5 separate regions of the Homo sapiens genome follow, and all the other regions are linked to region 4. The links come from fine-mapping of genetic effects on gene expression. A gene starts in region 4. Each other region holds a variant in brackets. All regions are shown on one strand. Distances are between the middles of the regions. Region 1 overlaps ARID4A (AT-rich interaction domain 4A). Region 2 overlaps KIAA0586. Region 3 overlaps ARID4A (AT-rich interaction domain 4A). Region 4 holds the start of PSMA3-AS1 (PSMA3 antisense RNA 1). Region 5 overlaps PSMA3 (proteasome 20S subunit alpha 3).

The links. PIP is the estimated chance that this variant, and not a neighbour inherited with it, causes the effect.
Region 1: its variant is the best candidate, but not a certain one, in a credible set for the expression of PSMA3-AS1 in lung (TOPMed, PIP 0.74).
Region 2: its variant is the best candidate, but not a certain one, in a credible set for the expression of PSMA3-AS1 in subcutaneous fat (GTEx, PIP 0.55).
Region 3: its variant is the best candidate, but not a certain one, in a credible set for the expression of PSMA3-AS1 in whole blood (INTERVAL, PIP 0.53).
Region 5: its variant is the best candidate, but not a certain one, in a credible set for the expression of PSMA3-AS1 in blood mononuclear cells (TOPMed, PIP 0.59).

Annotation. Positions count from the first base shown.
Region 1 is chr14:58,343,848-58,350,392 of GRCh38, reverse strand. ARID4A (AT-rich interaction domain 4A) reads right to left here. Exons shown (of 24, transcript NM_002892.4): 12 at 5,626-5,698; 13 at 3,888-3,982; 14 at 3,276-3,373; 15 at 2,515-2,746. Among named protein-coding and RNA genes, the nearest start is that of ARID4A, 49 kb to the right of the region's middle. The variant G/A (reference allele first, on the strand shown) is at 3,597.
Region 2 is chr14:58,460,662-58,467,206 of GRCh38, reverse strand. KIAA0586 reads right to left here. Exons shown (of 31, transcript NM_001329943.3): 14 at 6,047-6,221; 15 at 1,178-1,372. It also overlaps the pseudogene HSBP1P1. Among named protein-coding and RNA genes, the nearest start is that of KIAA0586, 36 kb to the right of the region's middle. The variant C/T (reference allele first, on the strand shown) is at 3,241.
Region 3 is chr14:58,315,120-58,321,664 of GRCh38, reverse strand. ARID4A (AT-rich interaction domain 4A) reads right to left here. Exons shown (of 24, transcript NM_002892.4): 6 at 3,044-3,123; 7 at 2,860-2,954. Among named protein-coding and RNA genes, the nearest start is that of ARID4A, 20 kb to the right of the region's middle. The variant G/A (reference allele first, on the strand shown) is at 2,442.
Region 4 is chr14:58,295,040-58,301,584 of GRCh38, reverse strand. It overlaps PSMA3-AS1 (PSMA3 antisense RNA 1), which reads left to right and starts at 3,448. Exons shown (of 4, transcript NR_029435.1): 1 at 3,448-3,630. ARID4A (AT-rich interaction domain 4A) reads right to left here and starts at 3,030. Exons shown (of 24, transcript NM_002892.4): 1 at 2,885-3,030; 2 at 1,725-1,787; 3 at 1-5. The coding sequence starts at 1,730. RefSeq lists a silencer at 1,941-2,460 and enhancers at 3,091-3,180, 3,291-3,340, 3,361-3,780, 3,077-3,800.
Region 5 is chr14:58,252,935-58,259,207 of GRCh38, reverse strand. It overlaps PSMA3 (proteasome 20S subunit alpha 3), which reads right to left. Exons shown (of 11, transcript NM_002788.4): 4 at 1,362-1,463; 5 at 1,210-1,283. Among named protein-coding and RNA genes, the nearest start is that of PSMA3, 11 kb to the right of the region's middle. The variant C/T (reference allele first, on the strand shown) is at 3,498.

The sequences.
Region 1 (6,545 bases), 49 kb before region 4:
GTCAACTTCTATACACTGGCAGAAGTCTCCTCTTCTTGGAATAAAGCAGATAAAGAGCCAGCAACTTAGGAAGCATTAGGATACAATTAATATCTCAGTAAACAAATGTTTTCCCTAGTTGCTGGCTATGTGCTATTTACACTTCAAAGGCAGAAAAAGAAGAAATTAATTTCTTTCTATCTTAAAGCACTAACACACAAGTTCCAAGATGGCACTTCCATCTCCTCAGATCTACACAGTGGCTGGCACATAGCAGGTGGCAGGTGCTTTTTTTTTTTTTTTTTTTTTTTTTAAGACAGAGTCTCGCTCTGTTGCCAGGCTGGAGAGCAGTGGTGTGATCTCAGCTCACTGCAACCTCTACCTCCCAGGTTCAAGCGATTCTCAGCCTCCTGAGTAGCTGGGACTACAGGCGCGCACCACCATGCCCAGCTAATTTTTGTATTTTTAGTAGAGACAGGGTTTCACCACGTTGGCCAGGATGGTCTTGATCTCTTGACCTCGTGATCCGCCCGCCTCGGCCTACCAAAGTGCTGAGATTACAGGCGTGAGCCACCGTGCCCGGCCTAGCAGGTGCTTTTAAAATATCTATAGGTAAATGAATGAAAACAACTGCTATAAAATTTGGGTCTGTATACCTTTGTCCCAGAAATACTGTTTTTATTTATTTATTCATTTTTTTGAGATGGAGTCTCGCTCTATCGACCAGGCTAGAGTGCAGTGGTGCGATCTCAGCTTGCTGCAACCTCTGCCTCCTGGGTTCAAGCACTTCTCCTGCCTCAGCGTCCTGAGTAGCTGGGACTACAGGTGAGAAATGCCATTTTTAGAAGCCTGGCTTATATATGTGGATAAGTGATGAGGATATTTTTACAAGCAAATGTATTATAGCACTTTTTTTTTTTTTTGTATTTTTAGTAGAGATGGGGTTTCACCATATTGGCGAGGCTGGTCTCGATCTCCTGATCTCGAGATCCACCTGCCTTGGCCTCCCAAAGTGCTGGGATTACAGGCATGAGCCACCGCGCCCGGCAGCACTTTTTAAAATAGTAAAAAACTGGGAGAAAATCTTGGAGAAGGTAGATTTATGGTTCATCCATACTAGACAGCACACTGCAGATATTTTATGTAGGATGAGGAAGGTTTTTAGGTAATGAAAAGAAAGTATGTCCACAATACATACAATAAAATATTATTCACCTTTAAAAAGGAAGGAAATTCTGATATGTGCTACAACATAATGTCTTACAGACATTATGGTGAGTGAATAAGCCAGTAAAAAAGGACAAACACTGTATGATTTCACTTATATAAAAGTACCTAGAATATCAAATTCATAGGTACAGAAAGTAAAACTTTGATTGCTAAGGGTTGGGGAGGAATGAGGAGTTACTGTTTAATGGGTACAGAATTTCAGGTTTGCAAGGTAAAAATATTCTGGAACTGGACGGTGGTGACACTTATGCAACGGTGAGAATGTACTTAATGCCAATGAAGTGTACACTTAAAAAGAGTTAAGGTGGCAAATTTTATGTTATATGTACTTACCACAATTTTAAAAAAAATTAAAAAAAAACAATTTGGAAATTTCATGACATTCACTAGAAGATTCCATTTACTACATGAAGGAAGTTTTGAAAACTGGTTTCTGAACTATAAGACAAAGCAATTTCACATTCTCTTTCATTAAATATGATTCCACCAAAAAATAAGACATAGTAATTAAACTTCTTTGATAGTGTGGTAAATTCCTTTCTCTTTCTAAAATTTGATAAATCCTACTATGTAACATCACTGGACACTGATCCAAATGCTAGATGACAATTCCTAAATAGACCTTATATATTAAAGGAAAGAAGGAGCAAAGTTGGAAGATACAACCAGCATACATGTACGCATCACTAGAGCTACACAGTGTGCTATAAAGTTACAAAGACAAGATATCATCTAGTTTAGGGCACAGGCACTATAAAGAGGTGATTCATTTATTCAACATCTATTTAATAAGCCTTTATTATGTGCCAGGCACTATTCTAAATGCGTGGCATCTGTCAATAAACGAAATAAACACTAATCCCTGACCTCGTGGAGTGTGATTCTAGTGTAGAGTGGGGCAAAATAGATAATCACAATAAACAGAATAAATAAGTAAATTACAGAAAGAACAACATCAGAGGGACTGAGAGTTCCAAAGAGAGGAGGCAGGTTACAATTTCAGATAAGGTGACCAAGACAGCCTTCAATGAGGTGATACTTTAGCAGAAGACTGGAAAAGGAATATCTGGGATTCATCCCAGACAAGAATGACTTGATCGAATATAAACAGAAAACAGAAGGAAGGGTTTTCAGGTAGAGGAAATAATATACAATATATTTCGAAAAAAGTAGCTAGCTAAGCAGCATTAAATACTGGAAAATAAACTAGGTTCACTGTAGTACTTTTGTGTATATATGAAAATGGCTATAATAAAAAATTTTAAATAATACTTAAACCAGATAAAACTAGTATTAAGAACTCACCCTCGGAGATTTTAATTCTATCTCTTCTCTTTCACTTTCACTGTTTGAATCGATATTTTCCTCAGGTTCACTCTTCACTTCTGTTAAAGGCATTTCTTGATCTAATTTGAGAGCCTCTTCCATTGATTCTTCTAAGTCTTTTTTTTCCTCTTTTACTTTTGGTTCATGGTGATGAACAGTTCTGAACTGAATATTTGCCGAACGGCAGTACTCCTCAAAACCATAGAGATACCTAAACAAACAATATTTCATTTAAGAAATCTTACAGTCTTTGCATCTAACTTGAATTCATGTTATTAAACACATTTTTAAAAAGTAAAGCCCAGTAATTTAAAAAAATTTTTGTTACTCTTTTCTGTGTTACTATTTTCTTGGTGTTTTAGATAGAATCATAAACAGAAAAACTGATCATAAAATGCCGTCCTGAGACGTCTGAGCTTGTGATAGCTAAACATAACTATCATAAGTTTTGATATGAAGGCTGTTCACCCCAAAAGATGTAGCTCTGTAATATGTATCATAATCGCAGACACTACCTGCATCCTGATTTTGGAAAGGAAATCAGGACAACATAAGAAATGGAGTAAAGCAGATTAGATGCGCTGAAATAACTTTCAATCACAAGTATCTGTCAACCTAAACCTTTTTATATACTTTCTCTAACTTTAATGTTTCTAGATTGATGTATTCTTGTTAACAAAGTAAATGGAAAATATTTCCTATAAATATATATTCTTTGATGAATAAACTATACTACTTACTTTCTATAAGCAGTTTTTACATTGTAGGAAGCAGCTGAATTCAAAATAGGAATGCCAAGGTCCATATAAATTTGCTTCCATACAGCACCACTATCAATCTGGAAAATTAAGTTTTTATGTTAACATTTGCAAAGGGAATTAATCTTTTTTTTTTTTTTTTTTTTTTTTTTTTTTTTTTTTTTTTTTTTTTGAGACAGGGTCTCACTCTGTCGCCCAGGCTGGAGAGCAGTGGTGCAATCAGGGCTCACTGCAGCCTCGACCTCCTGGGCTCAAGTGATCCTCCCACCTCAGCTTCCCGAGTAGTTGGGACCACAGGCATGC[G/A]ACACCATGCCTGGCTAATTTTTGTATTTTCTGTAGAGATGGGGTTTCGCCATGTTGCCCAGGCTAGTCTTGAATTCCTGAGCTTAAGCAATCCACCCGCCTCAATCTCCCAAAATGCTGGGATTACAGGCGTGAGCCACCGTGCCTGGCCAGGAAAAGATCTTTATCCTAATATTCTATGTTCATTAAGAAAATGTATTTATTATCCAATGTGCATATAATAATGCAATATAAGATAACTTAACTTTTTACCACATCAATACATGTTTCAAAAAGCAATGTTATACTTACATTGTCACATCCACCCTGATGATAAACCAGTCTGAAGAGTTTGAAGAGATTGAGATCTTTATAGCCCAAAACAGGTGGTTTGTTGATTGGAGTACCTTTTCAATGTAAGTAGGTAGAAATAAAATGTTTATTCAAATGAGAAATACTAATTTGAAAACAAAGCGGTCAATTTCTAATTTCCCCAATTTCATTAATTAGAGGCACATATTTAAAGAGCCTTAAACAATGTAAAACAACACAAGATAATTCTCTTGTGTTGTTTTATATATAATAATTCTTTTTTATATGTTTTATATATAATAATATATATAATAATTCTCTCTTATTTATATAGCTTTGTGGGGATCTTCAGATTTTAGGTGTTATACTAATAAAGCTACCTCTTTAACTGCCAATGAATTGAGTAAAACTAAAGTAAACACTGCATGGTGTGGCCAACAATGTTGCTGGTTCAAGACGCTTGGGCATAGGGCTGGGTGCAGTGGCTCACACCTGTAACCCCAGCACTTTGGGAGGCTAAGGCAGGAAGATCACTTGGGCTCAGGAGTTTGAGACCAGCCTGGGCAACATGGTGATATCCTGTCTCTACAAAAATTAAAAGGAAAACATTAGCTGAGTGTGGTGGTGTGCACCTGTGGTCCCAGGTACTTGGGAGCCTGAGGTGGGAGGACTGCTTAAGCCCAGGAAGTGGAGGCTGGAGGGAGCCATGTTCACGCCACCGCACTCCAGCTTGAGTGACAGAGTAAGACTCTGTCACAAAAAAAAAAAAAAAAAAAAAAAAAAAAAGTTTAGGCATAAACAAACACAACAGAAAAGATAAGATTTATACCCTGGTTCCACTTTCACTACTTTGACACAAATGTTAAGACTGTTAGCAGTAATCTGAAGGATGATTTCTGAAGGCCACACAGAATGTTTAGGACCAATTTATCTTAAGATTTTCTAGGACTAACAAATGGCAAGGAGTATGATGGTTTATAATTGTTCTATTATTCTACCTATATTAGAAATCTCATCTTTTTCAGATAACGATTGGTCTCCTATTATGTTTAATTTGCTGAGAACAAGGATCAGGCTAGTTTATCTAGTTTATTTGCCACAAATATAGCATTAGTAATTAGTGGGTATGCAGATTAACATAACTGGTCACTTTCTATTTCTGAAATATCAGAATATTCTTTAGCTTTGTAAGTGACAGGGAAAACTAAATTGTATCAAAATATTTTCTCACTTGTTTCTATGTAAAATAGGTATGAACAGTTTAATTCCAAATATTTTACTACTGTCAGGTGTAACTGATTCTAGGATTTATTTAAAATCCAAAACTAGACAGTCATGATGGTTCACAGCTGTAATCTCAGCACTTTGGGAGGCAGAGGTAAGAGGATCACTTGAGGCCAGGAGTTTGAGACCAGCCTCGGCAATATGGCAAAACCCGTCTCTACAAAAAATAGAAAAATAAAAAATTAGCTGGGTATGGTGGCACGTGCCTGTAGTCCCAGCTACTCGAGAGGCTGAGGCAGGAGGATCACTTGAGCCCAGGAGGTCAAGGCTGCAGTAAGCCAGGAGCAAATCACTGCACTCCAGCCTGGGCATCAAAGCAAGAACCTGCCTCAAAATAAATAAATAAATAAAATCCAAAACTGTTTATCTGCAATACTAACAAAAACAATGCATATACCTAGAATGTAAACATGAAAAAGAAATGACTACTTTAAAATAATGAGCATGAAAATACCTCTGTCTTCCATAAACTTATAAAGCTGCTGGAGGAAGTTGTCCCTCTCTTCAGGATCAAGTTCTTCCTCAGGCTGTAAAGATAAAATATATAAATGTATGGCACAGTGAACTGGAAAAGATACATGTCTTCTTTTATTTTTGTGAACCCAATGTAAAGTCATCAAATTTTAATAAAGCTGAAAAATCTGAATTTTCTCAATATCCTACAATGACAGATTTTAAGTCATATTTATGAAGATATACAATGTCTACCCTTCACTCCATTTACCACTCTAACTCTACTTTTCAGTATCACTGTAAGGACTAAGATTAGCCAAGAGGAAAACATTCAGGAATAAAATGGGAGTGTTACGTTTTCACCTCACCTGATATATTTTTTTTAAAGCCCATTTAAATACTATGTGGCCCACACAAATATACTGGCAGATGAGCACAATAATGACACATGTTCATTATATCATATATTTATATATAAAAATAATTTTCATATAAACATAGTTTTTGTTATTGCCAGATGAATATAAACCAGGGATTGCAAAGTCACAGTGGCAAAGGATTTCTGTTTAGATGGCACAATGTTTTAAAGATATTTAAATACATTTAAGTGAGTCATATACATTCTATTTTACCCCAGACCTCATCACCCCCTCATCTCACAATAACCTGGTTTTCTCTTTTGCCTTTCTAGTATGGCCCCTGTACTTGACTTTGCAACACCTAAAAATAAGATAACAAAATAATTCCAGAAGTAATTCTTAGGGAAGGAAACTAGATACATAATTACTGATTTAGCTTCTTTTAAAATTCTTAAAGTTTAGCACTACTAGAGAAAAACAAAACACTGATATGTTTCCTCCATATAAATGATCATAACTTAGAGTATTACTCTCCTCTGTTCTAAAAGAAGAGCTCAGATTT
Region 2 (6,545 bases), 170 kb before region 4:
AGTGCTCAGAACTGTACCGGGCACACAGTAAGAACTTTAAAAGTGTGAGCTATTTTATTACTAGGAGATATGTTTAAACAGAGAGCTATTATGTTGACATGAAATTAACCCATAATATCAAAAATAAAAAAGTCTCTTACATTAAAAAATATTCATACTTAAATTGTTAATCAAAACAAAAGAACAGCAATGACACTAAAGGGAAAAAAGAGCTAATTAGACTTGAACAGCTGGTGTGAGGACAAAAATGATCTGTTCAATTTTTAACATGAAGACTCAGAGAGAAGGCAAATAAGTAAATAAACAACTATTGGCTTAGATTACACACCCACACAGCTTTCACTTATGATAGCCTAGTTCAAAAGTACAAAAAAAAGTACCTTAATACTTCCCCAAAGACATAATGATATTAACAAGATAATCAAACTTATTGAATTATTATGAATGTCCATGACATATTTAAACTTTCTTTTTTAAGAGACAGGGTCTTGCTGTGTTGTCCAGGCTGGAGTACAGTGGCATAATCATTGCTCACTGCAGCCTCAAACTCCTGGACTGAAGGGATTCTCCTGCTTCAGCCTCCAGAGTAGCTAGGACTACAGGTGTTAGCCATCAAGCCCAGCTAATTTTTTTTTTTGAGACAAGGTCTTGCTATGTTGCCCAGGCTGGTCTCAAACTCTTGGTCTCAAGCAATCCTCCCATCTCGGCTTCCCAAAGTACTGTGATTAAAGGCATGAGCCACTGTGCCCAGCCAAAATATTGTTTAAAATTTCATTTCATCTACAATAATATAACATACCAAAAGAATTTTTCCTATTGGTGAAACTACAGCAGGAACCCATCATTTCAGAGATTGCTATTACACAGCATAAAATACATTGTGAGGCCTTCCCCACAAAAACAAATAACATTTACAAGAAAAGGTAGATGACTATCATGTTAGTACCATTTTGTAAGTTCTGCTACTGCTGATAAGAATTTAAAATTCAATGGCTGGGCACGGTGCCTCACGCCTGTAATCCCAGCACTTTGAGAGGTTGAGGTGGGTGGACTGCTTGAGTCCAGGAGTTCCAGACCACTCTGAGCCACACAGTGAAACCCCGTCTCTAATAAACACACAAACAAACAAATAAATAAATAAAATAAAATCCATCCCACATATTTTGTTGATTCTTACCTAAAAGAATTGCCATAGGAATCAGATGACCTTCCAATGTACCTGAAAAAGTAGGCATTTCTCTACTTGGGCTGAACAAATATTGCTGATCGCCATGAGGTAACACAGGAACAGAATGTTTCATTTTAGAATCCATCTTCTTAGGTTTTGTTGCATAGAAGTCAGTCTGTGTTCTTATTGACTTTACCTTAGTGCCTATAATAATCACCAATGGCAGATATTTTAAAATATTGTTAGAATATCTACTATCCAGACATCTAGAAATACAACAGCTCTTCACAGAAAAATCTTAATTCTATATAAGGTTACAAGGCCCCAAAACAGAAGTAATATATAGACCAGAGGTAGCAAACTTCTTAAATGGCCAGACAGTAAATATTTGTCTGGCAGGCCACGTGATCTCAGCTGTAATGACTCAGTTCTGCTGTTGTGTCATGAAAGAAGCCATGGACAATATATACATGAATGAACACAGTTAGAGGCAAATGAAACTTTATAAAAACAGGCAGCTCACGTGTAGGCCACAGTTGCCAGCCCCTGAATAGACATACAACTTGTACAGCTACTGTGACAAAATAGATATAATAACTAGAAAAAAATGTTAAATAAAGATTCTGAAGAATATTCCAACAATGTTTGAATTCTTTAAATTTTTTTCCATAGGTACGAAAAAGTTAATGATCATTTTTGGAATTGATGATTTTCATTTTCTCATTACACCTTTACACACAACATAATTCTGAATAACCAGCTTTATCTTTTTAAATTATGTACAGACAATCAAATTCTATACTTACTTAAACCTTACTAATTAATATCATTATACAGTAGTCTCTCCTTATCTGTGGTTTCTCTTTCCCTGTCTCAATTACCCAGGATCAACCTTGGCTGGAAAATATTAATGGAAAGTTTGAGAAATAAACAATTCATAAGTATTTAAAAATTATTCATTAATTTTTTTTAGATGGAGTCTCACTCTACCCAGGCTGGAGTGCAGTGGTGCGATCTTAGCTCAATGCAACCTCTGCCTCCCAGGCTCAAGTGATCCTCCCACCCTAGCCTCCCGAGTAGCCAAGACCACAGACGCATGCCACCATGCCCGGCTGTCATAAGTTTTACAATGTACGCTGTTCTGAGTAGCGCGATAAAATCTCATGCCGTCCTGCTCCATCCTGCCCAGGACATGAATCATCCCTTTGTCTGGGGTCTCTACACTGTAGACACTACCTGCCCATTAATAACTTAGTTACCATCTCAGTTATCAGATTAAAAGAACATAGTACATGTTAGGGCTTGGTACTATCCACAGTTTCAGGCATCCATTGAGGGTATTGGGACACATCCCCCATGAATAAGGGGGGACTGCTGTACATTTTTTTCTGTTCCTATGATGTATACATACACATATAGCCATTATATCCTAAATCTTAAAATATTAAAAATTTGACTTTATGTCTCTTTGGAGAAGTGAATAAATGTCTATGGAACACACACACAAAAAAGTAAAGAATAAAGTAAGCGGGCAAAGGAAGAGGCTAAAATATTTTCTTAATAATTTCCTGACATTACATTTTTACTTTTAACATGTGGGTGCTTTTTTTTTTTTAAATGCAGGAACTGCCAAAGTTTTAGTTTTTAATAATTAATAGTACAACTGACCAAGGTCCAAGATGTGAAGATACCACATTCAAGAAACTGGGGGATAAACCTTTATAAACTAACTATATAGTATGTGATAAGAATGCACACTTTATAATATAAAACCTGTCTACACACAGTAGTTAGCTGAAAAAAGCCATTCAGTCTTCTCTTGGCTCAGAAAAATGATGTTCCAGATTCCATTATATAAATTATTAGCAACCCTCAACTCTTTTGTGTGGCAGGTATCTTGTTTTCACCTTCCAGTTCTTCCAGCCCAGCCTGTGTCATGGGGTCTGTGATGTTCTTCTCCAGATCATCAATGTGACTACTCATATCATCAATTCTCCCAATTATCTGGTCATAGTCTGAAATTTATCTTGCATCTGCTGCAGGGGTGTCTACACCACCGAGGTGAGGTCCTG[C/T]AAGGTCTTGGGGTCAGTCTTGGCCATCTCCCCAGTGCCCAGGTTGGTGGTGATGTCTCAGACCGTCACCTACACTTCCACTTCACATGTGGGTGTTTCTATGTATCTAATTTTTTAATGTATCTAATTTTTTTTTTTTTAGAGACAGGGTCTTGCTCAGTTACCCAGGCTGGAGTGCAGTGGCACTATCATAGCTCACTGCAACCTTGAATTCCTAAGCTCAAGTGCTGAAGTGATCCTCCCACCTCAGCCTCCCAAGTAGCTGGGACTACAGGCATGCCCTGCTAATTTTTTTAATTTATTGTAGAGACAGGATCTAGCTATGTTGCTGAGGCTGGTCTCAAGCAATCCTCTTGCCTCAGCCTCCCAAAGTGCTGGGATTACAGGCATGAGCCACTGTGCCCAACCTACACATCCAGACTTTTAAATATAGTTTCTTTTTGTTTATGACCCCAGGAAGAAAAATTGTAATACCATGTCTATATTCTTTCATCTTGTTCTCTGATAGTCATTCTATTGAATGAATATTTTTCTTAAGTGTTTATTTAAAATGTTTGTTCAGCATTTAATATGTGTTAAACATTGTTTCTGGCACAAGGAATACAGAGGTGACTAAACCAACTGTACTCATGGAGCTTACAGTCCAGTAGTGACAAATAAATAATAAAACAAACAAATAAAAATATAACACAGGAAATGTGAAGTGCCATGAAGAACAATATGGCAGAGTGAGGAGATGGAGAGGAACAGGAGATAATTCTTTGAATAGAATGGTCAGGGTAGAGCACTCTAAGGAGCTATCATCTAAGAGCGGAGACGGAAGAATTGAGAGAGAGAACCATGCAAGTGTCTGAACGAAGAGCTCTCCAGACAGAGGAAGTGGCAGGTACTGAGGCCCTAGGATAAGCATAAGTCCTTAGGTTCTGATATGGCTTGGCTCTGTGTCCCTACCCAAATCTCATCTCAAATTGATCCCCATGCGTCACGGGAGAGACCTGGTGGGAGATGACTGGATCATGGGGGCAGTTTCCCCTAATTTGTTCTTGTGATAGTGAATGAGTTCTCATGAGATCTGATGCTTTAAAAGGGCATGGCTTTCTTTGCTCCCTCTCTCCTGCTGCCATATAAGACATGCCTTGCTTCCCTTCGCCATGACTCTAAGTTTTCTGAGGCCTCCCCAGAGATGTGGAGCTGTGAGTCAATTACACCTTCTTGTCTTTATAGATTACTCAGTCTCAGGTAGTTTTTTATAGCAGTGTGAAAATGAACTAATACAGGCTCTTAATCACTTCTGATCATTAAAAGCGTTATTGAATAAAGTTATTTTTGGATTTGAAAGCATTTTAAAGCCTCAAATTATTTTTTGCAAAGACTTTCAAAACCCCCCATATAAATTAATAGCAAAGCTACACTAGGCCGGGCACAGTGGCTCACGCCTGTAATCCCAGCTCTCTGGGAGGCTGAGGCGGGTGGATCACCTGAGGTCAGGAGTTCAAGACGAGCCTGGCCAATGTGGCAAAACCCTGTCTCTACTAAAAATACAAAAAAAAAATTAGCTGGGCATTGTGGCGCATGCCTGTAATCCCAGCTACTCGGGAGGCTGAGGCAGGAGAATCGTTTGAACCCGGGAGGTGGAGGTTGCAGTGAGCCAAGACTGTGCCACTGCACTCCAGCCTGGATGACAGAGCAAGACTCCGTCTCAAAAAAAAAAAAAAAAAAAGCAAAACTACACTAAATAAGAGAAAACTTCAGGGTAAATACCATCCATTAGGATAAATATCACCCATAAGCTATATGCTTTCTATTTTAAATTAGTAAAATTTCTATATAACCTGACACTGTATATGATTGCATAACCTTTAGAAAGCAAAGGGAACCAAAGTAACCACCATAGCTCCAACTTCTAGAAAGGATAAGAGAGGAAAATGGGTTTGTATCTACTAGTTATCACATATTGTCAGCTGTAGCTTACTGATTGCTAAGCAGAAGCTGAGAAACTATAATACATAACCAAAGTCAACAGACTCAGTATATAACCAAAAGTTGTATTTAAATACACAGTACCAGTGAAACAGTAGATGTGACTCAAAATACACAGTGATACATGAAGATGTTTTCAGTTGTGCACAAAAGCAACAAAAAAGTTTTCACCTTTCTACCTAAGTCTCTTTGAAAACCAAACTGCAAAAGTGCTCATCAACACTTTTATAATAAACAGCAAATGGCTGATCTTTCTGTTCATAATGCACCTAGGTCTTCAGGAAAATGTCTACTTTCCTAGATTATAATTTAGATGCTCAAGATTCATCATCACCCACTGTGGGCAATGTGGTGAAACCCTGTCTCTATAAAACATACAAAAAAATTAGCCAGGCGTGGTAGTGTGCACCTGTCATCCCAGCTACTTGGGAGGCTGAGAGGGGAGGATCACTTGAGCCCAGTAGGTCGAGGCTGCAGTGAACCATGATTGTGCCACTGCATTCCAGCCTGGGGGATAGGGTGAGACCTTGTCTAAAAAAAAAATTAAAAAAAAAATCATTTTCTCCTAAATAAAAATTTTATGATGCTTTATCTGAAGATGCCATTTAATCCTACATTTCTTCCCAATTATTCCTATCTTGTGTCTTTTTTAAAATGTTGGTCTATTTCTTCCTACCTCTCCTAAGAGGAATTATTTTTCCATCCCCAAGCATCATATAACTTGAATGGCACGTATAAGCAATAAATAAAAAGCAAAAAGAAACTTTACATATTAAACTGATACTATTAAGAAATGAGATTAAACATTAAAAATGAGATTCCTTACCTTTAACTCGTTCTATTACTTTTGGTCTCTGTGGTCTGGACTTAGGAGATGGAGAATTAAATCTGAGATATGGTCCTTTTTTAAGAGTGCTTCGATGGCCCTGATAAACTGGCTTTCCATAGACTTGTAACATATAATCTTCATCTTGTATTACTGTGGTTGCTTTCAAAAGCCCCTGTGTGTACAAAGTTATTCAACTCACCATGAAAACAGTCATCAAACACTTATCTCATTTTTCTAAAGCCTCCTTTTGCTAGCTTAAGTATTATAACAAGAATGATTAAGTAAAAAATAACCTCTGTTTTCAACAGCCCTTAAATTCTAGATAACAGGTTTCAAGCATTAGTTTGAAAAGCTTTAAATATAAAAATCATCCACCTAAGAAACATGAAAATTTTTACATTACTAAGTATATTTTCAGCACCAACAAGAAACATTTAAACACATTTTACATATTTATTATACTCCAGTACAATAAAAATACAACAACCTTAACCTT
Region 3 (6,545 bases), 20 kb before region 4:
CATTATATACTCCCCAGCAGCAGTGAGTACATATCTAATACCAGGATCTTGGTTTCTAAATATTAATTCCCACTAAAATAAATGAGGGACCCTTGTAGAAATGGCCAATTCCAGGGTTGGCGCAGGAAAAAATTAACATGAGCCTAGGATACCTTGTCATGCCAGAAGGTGAAAAAGTGCTCAAGAAATGGTGAGGCCATATCAAAAGAACACAGAAGCCATCCTGGAAAGGCTCCCAGGCTCCCTTGGCTAAATCTGGAACAACCTGAATTGTAACCCATTAAGTAAAATTAGAATCCATAGCGTTAGGAAAAGAATTTCATTATAGCTAAGCGATAACCAAAAAATGTAGCAAGAATGAAAAATTAGAAAAATCAGCATTTTGCTATCATAATAGTACTAACTGATTCAGGCAAGAATTATTAGTACATGATAAAATTTGTGAATCAAAGTTTGACAGAGACTAGAATATTTAAATAGTCTCAAAGTATCTCCACACAGATTTTACAAAGGGGAAAAACGGTAACTATAGTAATTCTGAAGTTTAGAAATTTGGCAGGCACCACCTTAATCAAAGTTAGTATCACCAGATATGGGACAAACTGATAATACTTCTTGCTGTGCTTTCCTTCAGGACACAACATCACTTATGGAGTATAATATATAACCTGAATCTAACAATGAGAAAACAATCCAACATATTAGGGAACAGGTTACAAGACTATTGTCTTGTATTCTTCAAAAACGTCAATGTCATCGGCTGGGCGTGGTGGCTCATGCCTGTAATCCCAACACTTTGGGAGGCCGAGGCGGGCAGATCACGAGGTCAGGAGATCGAGACCATCCTGGCTAACACAGTGAAATCCCGTCTCTACTAAAAATACAAAAAATTAGCCAGGCGTCGTGGTGGACGACTGTAGTCCCAGCTACTCGGGAGGCTGAGGCAGGAGAATGGCAAGAACCCAGGAGGTGGAGCTTGCAGTGAGCCGAGATCCAGCCACTGCACTCCAGCCTGGGTGACAGAGCGAGACTCCGTCTCAGGGGAAAAAAAAAAAAAAAAAAAAAGTCAATGTCATGGAAGAAAAAAGGCTACAGAATTTTTTTAGATTAAAGGAGACTCAAGAACCATATAAACTATATGCAATGCATGATCCTGAATTGGATCCTGTAATCAGGGGAACTGGGGGACGCTATAAAGGCTATTATTGGAACAACTGACAAAGTTTGAAATATTAACCATATATTATGATAGTAGTCTATCAGCGTTAAATTTTCTAAATTTGGTATTCATACTTTGGTTATGTAAGAACATCTCCTTGTTCCTAAATATTTAATGATAAAGGATCATGATGCTTGCCACTTCCTCTCAAATAGTTCAGAAAAATAAAATTATTACAAAATATAAAAATAATTAGTATAGGCCGGGTGTGGTGGCTCACGCCTGTAATCCCAACACTTTGGGAGGCTGAGGCAGGTGGATCATGAGGTCAAGAGATCGAGATCATCCTGGCCAACATGGTGAAACCCTGTCTCTACTAAAAATAGAAAAATTAGCTGGGCGTGGTGGCACGCGCCTGTAGTTCTGACTACTCGGGAGGCTGAGGCAGGAGAATCGTTTGAACCTGGGAGGCAGAGGCTGCAATAAGCTGAGATTGCACCACTGCACTCCAGCCTGGCGACAGAGTGATACTCCGTCTCAAAAAAAAAAAAAAAAAAGAAAAGAAAAAAATTAGTATATATATAGAGAGGGAATCGTAAAGCAAATGTGTGAAAAATGTTAAGAACTGGTAAATCTAGATAAAGAGTATATAGACATTAGGCCAGGTGCAGTGGCTCATATCTATAATCCCAGTCAGCACTTTGAGAGGCCAAGGCGGGCAAATCACTTGACGTCAGGAGTTCGAAACCCATTTGGCCAACAAAGCGAAACCTCATCTCTATTAAGAATACAAAAACTAGCCAGGCGTGATGGTGTGTCTGTAATCCCAACTACTCAGGAGGCTGAGGCAGGAGAATCACCGAACCTGGGAGGCAAAAGTTGCAGTGAGCCAAGATCATGCCACTGCACTCCAGCCTTGGTGGCACAGACAAACTCCATCTCACCAAAAAAAAAAAAAAAAAAAAAAAAAAAAAAAAAAAAAAAGAGTATATAGACATTCATACACAGATATTCGTGTATTATTCTTGCAATCTTTAAGTTTGAAATGTTTTTGAAGTAAAAGATAAAAAACATATACTCACTTAAAATAGAAAAATCATCATATCAATTAAAAACTTTGGGCCTGGCGCAGTGGCTCAGGCTGGGTGTGGTGGCTCACGCCTGTAATCCTAGCACTTTGGGAGACTGAAGCAGGTGGATCACGAGGTCAGGAGTTCGAGACCAGCCTGGCCAATATGGTGAAACCCCATCTCTACTAAAAATACAAAAAAAAAAAAAATTA[G/A]CTGGGTGTGGTGGCACATGCCTGTAGTCCCAGCTTCTCAGGAGGCTGAAGCAGGAGAATTGCTTGAACCCAGGAGGCGGAGGTTGCAGTGAGCCGAGATTGCACCACTGCACTCCAGCCTGGGCAACAGAGCGAGACTCCGTCTCAAAAAACAAAATCAAAAACAAAACAAAACAAAAAAAACTTCGGCAAAGTAACTTAAAACAAAAATAATCTATTAGAAGTAAGAGTTGTTATCATTCCTGGGCAAATATTGGGAATAATTAAGAACAAGGTCCACTCAGGGTAAAATGTCTAACATAAGGATACAATATGCTATGGAAAGCTTACCCAAATGAATTTAGCCATCCTAACAAAATCCCTTGTTTAAGGTTATAATAATTGTAATTAAAATGATACCATATATGAAAAAACTCACACAGGAAGAGAAGATCTCCTTCCTCTGTTCGTCTTCTTTGCAATTACTGGAGTTCCAAAATGCTCTGGATTTGTTAATGGAAGCTGGTCAAGTGTCTGTATAAGAAATAGATTAATTAAATTACGTTTTACCTCTAGATCAGTACCTGTAGTTCAATCCAAATCGTCCATCCGTGTCACCCTACCTCACTCTCTGCAAAATGTCTCTCTCCTTTCAGACAAAGTGAGGTACGTCTCAATGTTCGCTCATCACCATCATCAAACACTATAATAAGCAAAAGATAACAGAGAATTTATGCACACTAATGAAATAAAAACTTAAAAGCACAGAATGCTATTATTGCTATTAATTAGAGCTTAATATTTGTAAGAACCATTATTTTAGTCATTTTTCAAAACCTTTACAATGAGCATACCATGCCATATTTTTCATTCTACAGATACCAAAAACACAGGTTAAATGGCTGCCCACGACTGCTTAAGTATTTCCATCTGCTTTTTTGATTTCTATCACTACAGAACCACCTTCTTAACTCATTAGCAACCTAGTCAAAGCATAAATATTAAATTAACTGCAATCCTAGAAGAATGAACAAAAACCTGATTAAAAAAAGTATTATGGATTTTTCCACAAAAGTTTAATATTAGAGTACCCCTAACTTCCAGAAACTGACTCCTGGTATTGCTATTGAATTATTCTACTGCTTCTATTTATTTGCATGATAACCTACTACACATGTACCAGCTGCCAAATTCTAAAGTCATAAGATACAAGTTCTTTCTTTTGTTAGAAAAGGATGTAAGTAGTCTGTTTAAAAAAACTTTTTTTTTTTTTAATAAAGACAGGATTTTGCTATTTTACCCAGGTTGGTCTCAAACTCCTGGCCTCAAATTATCCTCCCGCCTAAGCCTCCGAAAGTGCTCGGATTACAGGCATCAACCACTGTACCCAGCTGAGAAGTTTAGAAATAAAGGTTGAAATAAGGAAACAGAAAGATAAAAGTTTGTAGGGCAGGCGTGGTGGCTCATGCCTGTGGTCCCAGCTACTGGAGAGGCCATGGTGGAACGATTGCTTGAGCCGCGAAAAACCAAGGCTCAACCATGGTTAGTGAGCCATGATTGTGCCACTGGGTGACAGCAAAACCAAGATTCTGTCTCAAAAAAAAAAAAAAAAAAAAAAAAGACAAATATAAAGGTTTTTTTAAAAAGAAACTTTAGGCCAGGCGCGGTGGCTCACGTCTGTAATCCCAGCACTTTGGGAGGCGAGGTGGGCGGATCACGAGGTCAGGTCAGGAAATCGAGACCATCCTGGCTAACACGGTGAAACCCCGTCTCTACTAAAAATACAAAAAAAATTAGCCAGACGTGGTGGCGGGCGCCTGTAGTCCCAGCTACTCGGGAGGCTGAGGCGGGAGAATGGCGTGAACCCAGGAGGCGGAGCTTGCAGTGAGCCGAGATTGCACCACTGCACTCCAGCCTCTACGACAGAGCAAGACTCCGTCCCAAAAAAAAAAAATAAAAAAGAAGAAAGAAAGAAAGAAACTTTAAAAAAAATCATAATTACATAGATGCTTTCTCAAATTTTTTGCTTTTACTACTTTTTTTTTTTTTTTTGAGACTGAGTCTCACTCTGTCCCCCAGGCTGGAGTGCAGTGGCGCGATCTCAGCTCACTGCAAGCTCCGCCTCCCGGGTTCACGCCATTCTCCCGCCTCAGCCTCCCCAGTAGCTGGGACTACAGGCACACGTCACCACGCCCGGCTAATATTTTTGTATTTTTAGTAGAGATGGGGTTTCACCATGTTAGCCAGGATGGTCTCCATCTCCCGACCTTGTGATTCACCTGCCTCAGCCTCCCAAAGTGCTGGGATTACAGGCGTGAGCACCGCGCCTGGCCTTTAGTACATATTTTAAAAAATCATACTACTTGGCCGGGCGCGGTGACTCCCGCCTGTAATCTCAGCACTTTGGGAGGCCGAGGCGGGCGGACCACCTGAGGTCGGGAGTTCGAGACCTGCCTGACCAACATGGAGAAACCCTGTCTCCACTAAAAATACAAAATTAGCCAGGCATGGTGGCACACGCCTGTAATCTCAGCTACTCGGGAGGCTGAGGCAGGAGAATCTCTTGAACCCGGCAGGCAGAGGTTGCAGTGAGCAGAGATTGCGCCATTGCACTCCAGCCTGGACAACAAGAGCAAAACTTCGTCTAAAACAAACAAACAAACAAAATCGTACTACTTGACTATATTTAAACATTTCAAGGAAATGGGGTAAGGAATTTTACAATTTATCCCTAATATTCTCCTAATCACTAACAATATATTATTTTGATAATTGTATAGGTTTAACTTTTGAGACTGTATTCTGATTTTAGCATCCAACATTTATAGTTTATTAAAAAGAAAATGCTCTCAGAAGGTACCTCATTGCCCCAGGTTATGAATAAAATAAGATATAATCTTTACTTCAGACACTTAACATCCATATTCACTTAACAAGAAAGCATACATATGTACCCAAAAACAATTATCAAGATTTAGTACTAATTTTCACAATTCTAGATACTTTTTTCCATTCTAACAGAATAAGTCAGTGTTAACAAAAAGAAATTCTACATTACATTCATTTGATATCTTAGAATTTTTTAATTGGTTACCTATGAAATTATAATCCTGAATTATTTTCTGAAAAGGTTGTTTTATTAGCAAACACTTTGCCTTCAAATCCTACGCTTACCTTTAATGAATAAGTTTTTTGAAAGAAAATTATATAAAAGCTTTCAACATGTTAAATATTTATTTACTTCAATCAGTTCTCCCTCTTAGACTACAGATACCTAGCTTAGATTCTTTTACATGCAGGAGACAATGTGGAAAAAATTAAAAACTCCCGAAGCACATACTCAAAGAACCATGATTCTAAAAAAGCAGCTGTGCTATACACAGTCAATGATCCAGAAATTAATGACTAGCTGCAGGCACAATGACAGGTTAAAACACAACATCCTCCAATGATTACATCACTGATCTGCACTTGAGTAATAGGGTGCTAAATATTTGATATAAAAACTATGATTCATATAGTGTCAAGTCTAAAAAATTAACCACTGTTCTCTTAAAGTTTTTAAATCATTAAATTATCACAAACCAAACAATATAATTCTTGTTAGTATTAGTATCTGTAAGTATAAGATTTCAAAAAGAATAAAACCTGAAAGGTTTTCAACTTTTCTTAATGCCTACAATACCAAAGATGACGATACTAGACACACACACACATTTAAATGGAGGTATGAAAAAGGAAAATGTGAATGTAAGACCAACACTCCAAAATTTATATAACAAAATATTTTCTATAATGTTTTATCATTAATCAATGGCAGCCCTAAACCAAAATGTTCTGATGAAAAATTTCAACAATTTCAACATTTTAAACAAAATATTTCAGCAATTTTTGAATTTCAACAATTCAAAAATTTCAATAATCACTTTGAAATAAAATCAGATTTTTGGAAGGAAAAATTCATTTCACTTAAATATACCTTATCATGGATAGAAATTTTTTTTTAAAAAAAGAGATTGCTCAAAAGGGGATTATGATACAAACAACTATTTTACAGTTTTATATAGGAACCCTCCCAACCTTAAGTGAACAAAAAGAAATAATTTAAGATTTATTTATTTATTT
Region 4 (6,545 bases):
GCCGCCTGGTGAAAGGAACATAAAACTGTGAATGTCATTACTATGCCTCCCTACTCCAACCTCAAGTCTCATTAAAAGGTTGTGTTTGAAGCATTAAGAATATTAAAATGACTTGCTTATTAATATCATTGAAAATTTGAAAAATACCCTAAATACTTGATTAGCAACCTTTCATTTTATAGACTGATGTCCTGATATGATAAAATGTTTTAAAGTTGTAATTCAAAATTATCAGTGATTAATAATGTTTTGTCTCGATACAAAATTTTTCAAAAATTCTACTATTATATAAGCAGAAAGATAAGAAAAAAACAGAAAAAATATTTCATATTACACATATCATAAAACTAAGTTATTCATTTATAGCTTCCTGAAATTTTTCAAATTAAAAGAAATATTGCTACTAATATTAACACTAACAATACATAATTGTTTATTGACATAGCCACATAAAGGTAACATCTTTTCATAAGGAAAGTATCATTTGGAAAATTCATTTGCTAAAAGCTGCACTTGAAAGGTTTTAAGTCTGAATTCAGCCGATGAATGCAGATATGAACTGATGGCTCCAGACTTGTAGGTATACCTAGTTTACCACACTAATCTTCTTAGTATAAAAAAATAAGCGTTACTAAGAAACATCTACTTTCAGCAAATGGACACGACCAGAATGATACATAGAAAGATGTAAGAAATGTCACTCTACCACTCATTTTAATTTTTACAGTAACAGGATGATTGCTATCTCAATCTGTCATTTTACCTTTTTTTTTTTTTTCCGGAAGTTAAAGTGTATCCATACAAGTTCAACTTAACATTGTTAAGTGCAAAGTTAACAGTGTACACTTTGGAGATACGTTTTGAAGTAGAAAATGATTTTTTGTTTTCTAATAAGTTTTCCCAAGTAATATTAAAGAAGGTTAAATATGTCATTTACTTCGAGAAAATAGAAAACCACGAGAAAGTTTGGGAAAATGCTATATTTCAGAGCTTAATATGCTGAAACAGTAAATAAGACAGGAATTGGGTACCTTTTAAAGTAAGTGCATTTACAAAAAATACAAATTGAATAGGAATGCTTTTGGCAAACAAAAATCTGACCTGAAACATTCAATGGCCACAGCATTCAAGAACGCTATATGAGATCCTTTCCCTTTAACCATCCACATACTGATATTTGCAGTCATCCTCAGTAGAATATGTATCTTTTTAGTATATGTTTTAAAATACTTATTGGAAAGATTTAACTAAAACTATTATTATACTTCAACTTCAAATATTTTAGCCACATAAGTTCATTTTACACACAGAAGAAATGATACCTTCATTACTTAATCCACGTATTCTTTCTTTTAGAAAATCGCATTGGCACACGGGAAGAAAAAAAATTTACAAAAAATCCCCCAAAGAACCAAAGCAGGACAAAAGCTTTACTTCTGCAAAGGTTGCTGCCAACACAGGAAGTGTTTAAAAATACTATCCGAATGGACAACAATTGAAAGGCTGCACCAGCCTTTCCAAAGTACTGCTACAGAGAGGGCCTAAACTCCGCATTTAGACACACAGATCATTTTTCACCCATTCAACACATCCTCCTATGCCGAAACTGCTGATCAGTAGGAACATCAATTTTGAGTAGCAAAACAAATGACATTCCACGGCACTAGCCTTAGGATTGGCAGTGTTCAGGGCGCGAGGATCGGGGCAGAGTTGACTCCACTTACCTTCATTTTTGTTGGTGATCTGTGGGGTTCCAGCTCAGCGAGCTATCTTCGCAGTCGCTAGAACTATGGGGAGGGGGAAAGACAGGCACAGACATAATCAGTCAACTGCGGGGAGCGACCAAGGGAAAGAAAGTAAACAAACGCCAGCGGGGAGGGGCAGAATCCTCACCAGCCAAGGGACAAGACCCCTTACGAGGGCAGCCAGGACGCAGGAGCTGAGGGGGCAGCGAGAACCCCACGAGCGCCAAAGGGCAGCCCGTTCCGCCCCGGAGCTCGCCAGCGGCCCACCGCGCCCCCGCCTCGCTGGCCACTTTGACCCGGAATGCTCAACTCGGAGCTCCAGGACAGATAGCTCCGGAAAAGGCCAGAGCTCCCTTCGGGCTTCCCCAGGTCCCCCGCGGAGACGACCGCCGAGCCTCCGCTCCGCGGTCCCCCGGATACCCCGACTTCGGCCCGCGCCCCGCCTCCGCCGCTCGGCCCCCTCGGCCCGCCCCGGGCCCGCGGTGGCGGCAGCGGAGTGTCACGGCGCCATTGCTCTCCTTCCTTCGCTCTGCACCATGTCAGAAAGGAGAAGCGCTCCTTCACCCAAAGGGGCAGGGGCCGCGGCCTTCAGCCGGGAGCCGCCAGAGCCCCGGGGGACCCGCGTGGGGGAGGGGGCGGGGGGCGGAGGGGAGGAGGAGGGGAGGTGGCCCGGACAGGGTGTGGGAGGGGAGGGGAGCCGCACCGCAGCAGCCGCTGCCTCCTCCCAGCGCCCGCCTCAACTTTTTGTACAGCCCAGAGAGGTATCAGCTCGTAGCCCCTCGAGTCCTGCCACGGACTCCGCAGAGGTGGACGCGCCGCGGAGTTGGGGGACGGCTCCCCCAAGCAGCCCGCTCTTCACCGCGCGGAAGCAAACTTAGCGGCGCGGCCAGCCCCACAGCCATTTTCCCGGGAACCCGAGGAAGCGGACGAGGAGGCGGCTGCAACTGCGGCGGCGGTTCCTGCAGTTGCTGCCGCTGGTCAATGGCTGGCCCCTTCCCTTGCGCTCGCCGTGCCACTTGCCTAGCATCCCTCTCCCCACCTCCAAAGCTTCCAACTGCACCGGGACCTCGGGCAGCAGCAGCTGCTGCTACTGCCACTTCGTCCATTCAGTATCCCCGGATTCCCCTCTCCCCACCTACCAACTGCGGGTGAAGTGCGCGCTGTCAGCTCCAGAGTCCTCCTCCCCTCTGACCTCCGTGGGCCCCCGTCCGGGCAGCACCACTCCCAGCCGCGGCTGCAGTTCCTGCGCCGGGTTCCCCACTCGCCCCGATTTACTGCCACAATCCACCAAATAACAAGCTGTTGAGCAGACTCGCTTCTACACGAACTCCTATTGGCTGCTCATGACGCCGAAGAGCTTCGGATAGGACCTCGCTACCTGCCGTCCTCATTGGATGTAGCTGTGAAACTTCATGGATTGGTGAGAAAAACAGCAGGTAGGACATCTTCCACTTATGATTGGCTTTTTCCGAAAACCAACTTTATTGGAGAGTTGGTTATTGAGTAAGCAAGTCCTGAGAAATGATTGGTAGAGACGACTCCGGATGTGCTTGACTGGGCACTGATTGGTGAATTGAGGGGTCAGGAAGAGCAGTTCGACACGAGGATTGGCGGCGGAGTGTCCCATGGAAACGGAACCCAGAATTGCAGCCAGGGGCTTGCACGGGGGCGGGGCAGGGTCTGTCCAAGGCGCTTGCGCTAAACCAGCTTGTCGGCGCCATTTTGTCTCGGCAGCGGTGGCCGTAGCTCCATCGCATTTTATGTTTCTGGCGAGAAGGGAACGGAGTTTTCATCAGGTAGATTGGTTTTTGTGCGGCCGTCCTCCACCGTTTCCTCCAGGACAGCACCTAGTCGTGGCCGGAGGAGTCTCAGAGCTGTCAGAAAGGTCAGTTGGAGGCTATGGTTGTCCGATTGACTGGGGGGATGGCGCAGCCCTAGCGGCACCGGCACCGGAAGTGAAGGGGCCGCAGGCAGCCATGGTAAACTTCTCCCTGCGGCGGGGTGGGGAGAAGGGGCGGGATGAATGGGGGCGAGGCTTCCTCTCCCGCCGAGATAAAGAGGTGGAGGAGAGGCAAACGTCTTTCTTGGAGGTTCTCTTTCGGGTTTTCGAGAATGTGAGAGATTTTCTGGGTTCTGTCCCACTGCAATCTTTCCTGTCTTTGGAAGTGCATTTCGGGGACTTGCCATGTTCTCCACCTGATTGGCACCAGCTGTGGGAGCCTTCTTAGTTAAGACAGGGAAGAAGTGGTTCTTAGAAACATCCTGCATGGGTAGAGGTTTCCGCGTGCTCCTCACGGGATAAAGCTATGAGGAAACTGGAGAAAGCGCTGGCTTTCTGGATGCTGAGGAATTTACTTGCCAGCGCAGACGCTTCTTCTGTGACCTTAGACAAGGGTCTGTCACTCTGCACGAGGCTTATGCTACTTTTTGAAAGCAAACAGTGGTTTTGCAGGGACTGAAAACATCTTAGACAAAAGGACGTCCCCGATAAGATAGACGTTGATCTTTTTCTGTTAACATCTTATATTCTGTTAAACGAAACACACATTTTTAAATAGCGGAATTGGAGTATAAAATTGACTAGTTTTATAGAATGGAGTAATTTTTAAAATGTGACATATCGTCAGTAATCCACGTGGACTAAATTTTCTCAGTAAGAAAACAGCCGAGCAGAATCAGTTTTTTATTCGTAACAGTAATTTTGCTCAAAAGTATTCATAAAAACGTGAAATGCATGTTGGCATTTCTAGTGAGTGACCTAGTCACACTGGATAGATCCTAATAGTTACCCTCAATACCTCTGTTTTAAACCCTACTGCTATATTGGTGGCGCCCATAACTAGAAAATGATTGTGTGACTTAACAATTACTGGGTTTTTTGGCAGTTGTGCTGAAGAAAACAGAACATCTCAGTGATTACTGAGGTGAGTCATAAAGTCTAAAAATCCTTAGAATTGCGGGGGACTACCTGGAAAAACTTTCTATGGATTAGTAAAGAAATACCAGAATGGGAGGAAGGGTAGTTAAAAGATGTTTTGTTTGGTCAGATTCAAATGAGTCTGTATAATTAGCTTTCTAGTGTAATATTTTAGAATGAAATCCCAAAATTAGGACATCCTTATGGACTTGTTTACCCATTTACGTGGTTCTCATTTCTGGACTTTGATATACCTCATGTTTTTGTTATAAAACATTATGCGTATTTTTGTGATTTCCTCCCCCCCACCCGCCTATTTAAAAAGTTCTTATATAGAAAAGATCTTGTAAATGGGAGTGTTTAGGAGTGAGGCTTTTTTTTTTTTTTTTTTTTTTTTTTTGGAGACAGAGTCTCTCTCTGTCATCGAGGCTGGAGTGCAGTGGCGCAATCTCGTAGGAGTGAAGCAGTTTTTTAAAAGACCTTATAAAACAATATATTACTGAATTTTCTAGGGGGTAAGCATCCATAATTCTACGATCAAAGTTTAAACTGTTATTATTGAATCCAAATAATGCATGGACATTTGGAAATTATTAAAAAGCCCAAAGAAGAATACAAAAATGTCTTCCCTCCTCCAAAAGGTAGTTACGGTTTACACTATAGTTATATATTATACAAAAGGCTTTGTCTTTTTTGTTGGTTTTGTTTTACCAAATATTCTAGTGTTGTTCATTACCGTCTATTCTTTATAGAAAACATTGGGAATATTGGAAATATCTTATCGTAAAGCATCTTTTATGTCTTCATAGTGTTTTGTGGGATAAATATATCATAATTTATGTAACGTGTTTATTTTTCTATAATGGCAGTAATATGTCAGTGAATATCCTTGTACATGTTTTGCAAAATATTGTGTCTAAGAAGGTCGTTGCAAAAGTAATCGTGGTTTTTGCATTATTGGAATTTGCCATTTGATGTTGGACTACGTTGTTAAATAAATGTGGTTATGTTATACATCATTTTAATGGGCATTTCTCGCTTTGTTCTTTTGGTAATGACTTATTACTCTCTGTTTATTTCATGTTTATTTTATTTTATTTTTGAGACAGAGTCACGCTCTGTCGCCAGGCTGAAGTCAGTGGCACCATCTCGGCTCACTACAACCTCTGCCTCCCAGGTTCAAGCAATTCTTCTGCCTCAGCCTCCCGAGTAGCTGGGACTACAGGCGCGTGCCACCACACCAGCTAATTTTTTGTATTTTTAATAGAGCCAAGGGGCTTCACCATGTTAGCCATGGTGGTCTCGATCTCCTGACCTCATGATCTGCCTGCCTCGGCCTCGTAAAGTGGTGGGATTACGGGCATGAGCCACGTGCCCAGCCTTCATGTGTATTTTAGACAATGAAAATGATGTTAGACAAAAAAGCAAATTCGAGCAGTTTTCGTTTTTGAGTTAAAAATGGGTTGTAAAACAACAGAGACACCATATCAGCAATGCATATGGTTCAGGAACTGTTAACTTACAGTGCAGTGGTGATTCAAGAAGTTTTTTTGTTGTTGTTGTTTGAGATGGAATCTTGCTCTTTCAGGCTAGAGTGCAGTGGCATGATCTTGGCTCACTGCAACCTCTGCCTCCTGGGTTCAAGCCATTCTGCCTCAGCCTCCCCAGTAGCTGGGATTACAGGCACGCACCACCATGCTCAGCTAATTTTTGTATTTTTAGTAGAGATGGAGTTTCACCATCTTGGCCCAGGCTGGTCTCGAACTCCTGACCTCGTGATCCGCCCGCCTTGGCCTCCCAAAGTGCTGGGATTACAGGCTTGAGCCGCTGTGCCTGGCAGTTTCAAGAAATTTTGCAAAGGGAAGGAAAGTCTTGAAAATCAG
Region 5 (6,273 bases), 42 kb after region 4:
GGTCTGAAAACAAAGTGTTTCATAATGTAATTTAACTGAGAAGCTTAAGAATGACTAATGTCAGCCTGGGCAGCATGGTGAGACCCCGTCTCTACAAAAAAAAATTTTGTTAATTAGCCAGGCATGGTGGCCCATGCCTGTGGTCCCAGCTACTTGGGAGGCTGAGGTAGGAGCATCGCTTGAGCCAGGTCAAAGCTGCAGTCAGCCATGATGGCACCACTGCACTCCAGCTCAGGTGACAGTAACTGTCTCAAAAAGTAAAAACAAAACCCTAATGTAATATTACCAATAGAATAAAACTCAAGTTTTCTTTAATATCTTAGTAATTAAATATGACTGATGATAAACAACTCAAAGGTAGGACTACAGCTGAGCACTCAGATGTTAGTATATGTATTATTTTGACCAAACATGTTTGACTGTTTTAAGTCATAAGCCAAACATGTCTTTTCATTTTAGAAAAATCTAGTCACAAGTCTTCTCTGTGAAGCCAAATTTGAATATTTATACCTATTCCAGGTCTTTATGCAGCTGAATCTCCACTTTACCCCACAATAAAATATCAGCACTTCAACAGAAAGAGAAACCGTGCCTAATGGGAATTGTGAGACGTAATTTTTAAAATTACCTAAGAATATCAGGGACTAACACCGAGAGCTTATTATAATCAGATTAAAGTCATTGTTATCAGTTCCTTGTTTTATAATCACTTCAGATCTATATAGTCCTTTTCACTATTGAAACCTTTTTTTTTTTTTTTTTTTTTTTTTTAAAGAGGCAGAGTCTCTATTGCGCCAGCTAGAGTACAGTGGTATGGCCACAGCTCATTCCAGCCTTCAACTCCTGGGCTCAAATGATCCTCTCAAGCAGCTCCTAAGTAGCTGTGACTACAGGCATGTGATACTGCACCTGGCTAAATTTTAAATTTTTTTTGTAGAGATAGGTTCTCACTGCGTTGGCCAGGCTGGTCTCATACTCCTGGGCGCGAGGGATCCTCCCACCTCAACCTCCCAAAGTACTGGGATTACAGGCTTGAGCCATGGCACCCAGCCTCAAGTAGTTTCTATGTACACTGTTTTATTTAATCATTGCCCTAATACTTATCGACGAGTTTCTATTTTTAAGTATGTAAAAGGCTAAGATGCTGGGGAACATAATAAATATCTATAGTACAGATCTGCCTTTTGAATAATTCACAAAATTTCTTACCTGCAGCCAAAAGGTCTAACAGCACTGTAGAGTGTATATGCATGCACATACATGGCCACTCTGTCTGCAAGATGCTATGGAGGGAAGCAGAAGAGCTTATTAATAAACTTCTATTACTGTCCAAAAGGTTCCTCAATATGTTATCAACTTACTTTTAGTGGAATGTTGTAGCCAAAGTTAGATCTGAAGTTGGAAGCTTCTTCTCTTGCTATGTCTGCTAAAGAACGAGCATCTGCCAACAAACCTGCTACTGCCTGAAAAAAAAGCACCAATTTACTAGAGGAACACATTCCTATCACAAATCAAAGTCTGCAATTAATAAAGACTTATTAAACATTTTTTTAACAAGTATTACCATTCAAAATAAACTTTTTTGGCTTAAAGGTCTCTCTACAAGGCATTTTGATGCTTGAGTATGAAATTATAATTTAGAAATTTAGTAAGTATAACTTCATTGCTTTGTCCAATGTTCATATTCAGGACATTTCCTTTTTTTTTTTTGATACGGGGTCTCGCTCTGTCACCAGGGCTGGAGTACAGTGGCATGATCTCCGCTCACTTCACACTCTGCCTCCTGGGTTCATGCCATTCTCCTGCCTCAGCCTCCTGAGTAGCTGGGACTACAGGCGCCTGCCACCACGCCCGGCTAATTTTTTTGTATTTTTAGTAGAGATGGGGTTTCACCATGTCAGCCAGGACGGTCTTGATCTCCTGACCTCGTGATCTGCCTGCCTCAGCCTCCTAAAGTGCTGGGATTACAGGCGTGAGCCACCGTGCCCGGCCAATATTCAGGACTACTTCTATCATAAATCCTCTTCCCCTGATTTACTACCACTACCTCATTATAACGAATAAAAACCATGGGTCTTGGTCAGATTTTTTTTTTTTTTTTTTTTTGAGACAGAGTCTCACTGTGTCACCTAGGCTGGAGCACAATGGCACCATCTGGGCTCACTTCAACCTTTGCCTCTCAGGTTCAAGGGATTCTCCTGCCTCAGCCTCCCCAGTAGCTGGGATTGGCTAATTTTTATATTTTTAGTAGAGACAGGGTTTGGTTTTGTCATGTTGGCCAGGCTGGTCTTGAACTCCTGACCTCAGGTGATCAGCCTGCCTCAGCCTCCCAAAATGTTGGGATTATGGGTGTGAGCCGCCGTGCCCGGCCCAAATTTGTTCTTTTCTCTAAAGTTATTACAGGTTGAGGATATCTAATCCAAAAATCTGAAATTTAAAACGCTTCAGAATCTGAAACTTTTTGAGTGCCAACATGACACTCAAAGGAAATGCTCAGGCCGGACCTGGTGGCTCACACCTGTAATCCCAGCACTTTGGGAGGCTGAGGCAGGTGGATCACAAGGTCACGAGTTCAAGACCAGCCTGGCCAAGATGGTGAAATGCCGTCTCTACTAAAAATACAAAAATTAGCCAGGCGTGGTTGCAGGCACCTGTAATCCCAGTTACTTGGGAGGCCGAGGCAGAGAATTGCTTGAACCTGGGAGGCGGAAGTTGCAGTGAGCCGAGATCGCGCCACTGCACTCCATCCTGGGCAACAGAGCGAGACTCCATCTCAAAAAAAAAAAAAAAAGGAAATGCTCAGTAGAGCTTTTTGGATTTTGAATTTTCAGATTAAGGATGCTCAGCTGATGAGTATATAATGCAGATATTCCAAAATCGAAAAATATCCGATATACTGCTGGTCCCAAGCATTTTAGACGAGAGATACTCAACCTGTAACTGTTTTGTTCTAAAAGGCACAATCGCAAATCTTTTTTCAGCCTATTGGCTGAATAAACTACAATGATAAACCATTCCTCTTTCAAGATTTGCGGCTTAGAACTGCAGTTACTAGGCCGGGCACGGTGGCTCATGCCTGTGATCCCAGCACTTTGGGAGGCCGAGGCAGGGGGATCACCTGAGGTCAGGAGTTTGAAACCAGCCTGGACAACATGGTGAAACCCCTACTAAAAATACAAAAATTAGTCAGGTTTGGTGGCGGGCACCTATAATCCTACCTACTCCCAAGGCTGAGCCACAAGAATCACTTGAACTCGGGAGGCGGAGGCTGCAGTGAGCCGAGATCACGCCACTACACTCCAGCCTGAGCAACAGAATGAGACTTTGTCTCAAAACAAAAACAAAAACAAAAACAGAATTGCAGTTACTATGTATGTGCCGAGAGGTCCTCAGGCACTGCAGTGAAATCACATGTTAGTGTGGCATATCTTTTTTTTTGAGATGGAGTTTTGCTCTTGTTGCCCAGGCTAGAGCACAGTGGTGCAATCGCGGCTCAC[C/T]GCAACCTCCACCTCCCAGGTTCAAGGGATTCTCCTGCCTCAGCCTCCCGAGTAGCTGGGAGTACAGGCATGCGCCACCACGCCCGGCTAATTTTTGTGTTTTTAGTAGAGACAGGGTTTCTCCATGTTGGTCAGGCTGGTCTTGAACTTTCGACCTCAGGTGATCCGCCCGCCTTGGCCTCCGAAAGTGCTGGGATTACAGGTGTGAGCCACTGCACCTGGCCTAGTGTGGCACATTCTAAGTTTGGAGAAAAATGTCCAAGTAGTTCCGTTTGAACATTAGATCGTTTTACTACATTCCTTTCAATGCCACCACATCTTTGAGAAGCTTGGCTGTTAGTGGTTGCTGTGAAAAAAAGTAAGTACTGTGCAAAAATCAGTGTGGAACAGGAAATGACAGTGGCCACATCCAAATTTGGGAGGTTGTGCAGTGTATATACTAGAAATTTTGGTTGCTTAAAATAAAACATTTTAATTTTTAAATAAAAATATTTTTCACTATGTGTGTATTTAAAAAAAAAAAACGGCTACTAAGTTTTTAGGATGTAAACACTAAGTTCTTTGGATCTAAATACTTAATAAATGAAACCATTAGGTATTTTCGGCCTAGGGAAGCCATGAGAAAAACTACTGAGACACTTAAGGTACCATAAACCAACCAAGTTTTTGAAACCCTCTAGCCCAGGACAGTTACAGAATTTAAAAGTGGTATCACAATCTTTAATAGCCTTTTTTTCCTACGCTACCCAGTAATAGTAATAATGATAATTACTAAGAGATACTGAGCACTCATTACATGTTAAGCATTTTGCATAATAATTTTTAACCTCACAACAACTGTATGTGCCAAGTACTATTATCACTCTTGTTTTGCAGACAAGGAAACGCGTGTTTAGAATAGCTTCCCCAAGGTAACCCATGCCAGTAAGTTACATCACTTAAAGAATCTTCTGTTGCTTTAGAGAAAGCTTACTGTAAAGTCATATAATTCTCAAATCACTTGAAGATGACAACTGTGGAAGGAGGGAGGATATTAAGTCTTAATTTTCTCCAGCCCTCTTCAATGTCTAATGTTGACAGGGCACATTGGCTCATGCCTGTAATCTCAGCAACTCAAGAAGCTGAGGCGGGAGGATCGCTTGAGCCCAGGAGTTCAAGACCAGCCTGAGCAACACAGCAAGATCATATCTCTTAAAAAAACTAAAAAATTAGCCAGGTGTGATGGCACACTTGTAGTCACAGCTATTTGGGAGGCTGAGGCAGAAGAATCACTTGAGCCCAGGAGCGCAAGGCTGCAGTGAGCTATGATCATGCCACTGCACTCAAGCCTGGGCAACAGAGCAAGACCTCTGTGTGTGTGTACATACATATATATATGCATGCATAATTTTTTTCAAAATATTAACTTTTGCTAGTACATAAAAGAATACAAGATCACCTCCTACTAGCTAGGTTACAATGTAGCAAGTTTCATCAAAACATATCAGTTTCACTGGCAATAATAAATCTGTTCAGCATTATTCTTAGCAAACTAATACAAGAAGAGAAAACCAAAAACCACATGTTCTCTCTTATAAGTGGAAGCTAAATGATGAGAATTCATGGATACAAAGACAGGAACAACAGACAATGGGGCCTACTTGAGGGTGGAGGGTGGGAGGAGGAAGAGGATCAGAAAAAATAACTATTGGGTCCTAGGCTTAGTACCTGGGTGACGAGAAAAATCTGTACAACAACAACAACAAAAAAACAGTAAAAAGAAAATGTATATATACACAATGGAATACTATTCATCCTTTAAAAAGAATAAAATGCTAGGCTGGGCACGCTGGCTCACGCCTATAATCCCAGCACTTTGGGAGGCCAAGGCGGGTAGATCACTGGAGTTCAGGAGTCCGAGACCAGCCTGACCAACATGGTGAAACCCCGTCTCTACTAAAAATACAAAAATTAGCTGGGTGTGGCGGCGTATGTCTGTAATCCCAGCTACTTGAGAGTCTGAGGCAGGAGAATTGCTTGAACCCGGGAGGCAGAGGTTGCAGTGAGCTGAGATCGCGCCATTGCACTCCTTCCTGGATGACAGAGTGAGACTCCATCTCAAAAAATAAAATAAAATCCTGTCATTTGCAGCAAAATAAAAAAATCTGTTCAGGAGAAACATATTGTTGAGATAAAATAATCTTTGAAGAAGAAAAAAATTAGCTTTATGGTTTACTGGTTATACTTTACCAGTACTTTTTGTGTTTGTGTGTAACATTAAATCTCATTTAGATATAAGAAAGCTATCAGCTGAACGATGTGGGTCATATAAGGTGTCTTTTCATTTAGAAAGGGCTCTTGAGTAACATGCAGACCCAAGTTTGAATCCCAGCTTTTCTTTACTTGCTGTGCATCTGTTTTTTCACCTGTGAAAATGGCATTAGGCCGGGCGCAGTGGCTCACGCCTATAATCCCAGCACTTTGGGAGGCTGAGGCGGGCAGATGGATCACTTGAGGTCAGGAGTTCGAGACCAGCCTGGCCAACATGGTGAAACCCTGCCTTTACTAAAAATATAAAAATTAGCTGGGCATGGTAGTGGGCACCTGTAGTCCCAGCTACTTGGGAGGCTGAGGTAGGAGAATCGCTTGAACCCAGGAGGCAGAGGCTGCAATAAGCTGAGATGGCGCCACTGCACTCCGGCCTGGGTGACAGAGCCAGACTCTGTCTCAAACCAAAAAAAAAAAAAAAAGAAAATGACATTGATATAACCTTCACTGGGTTGTCAAGATTAAACAA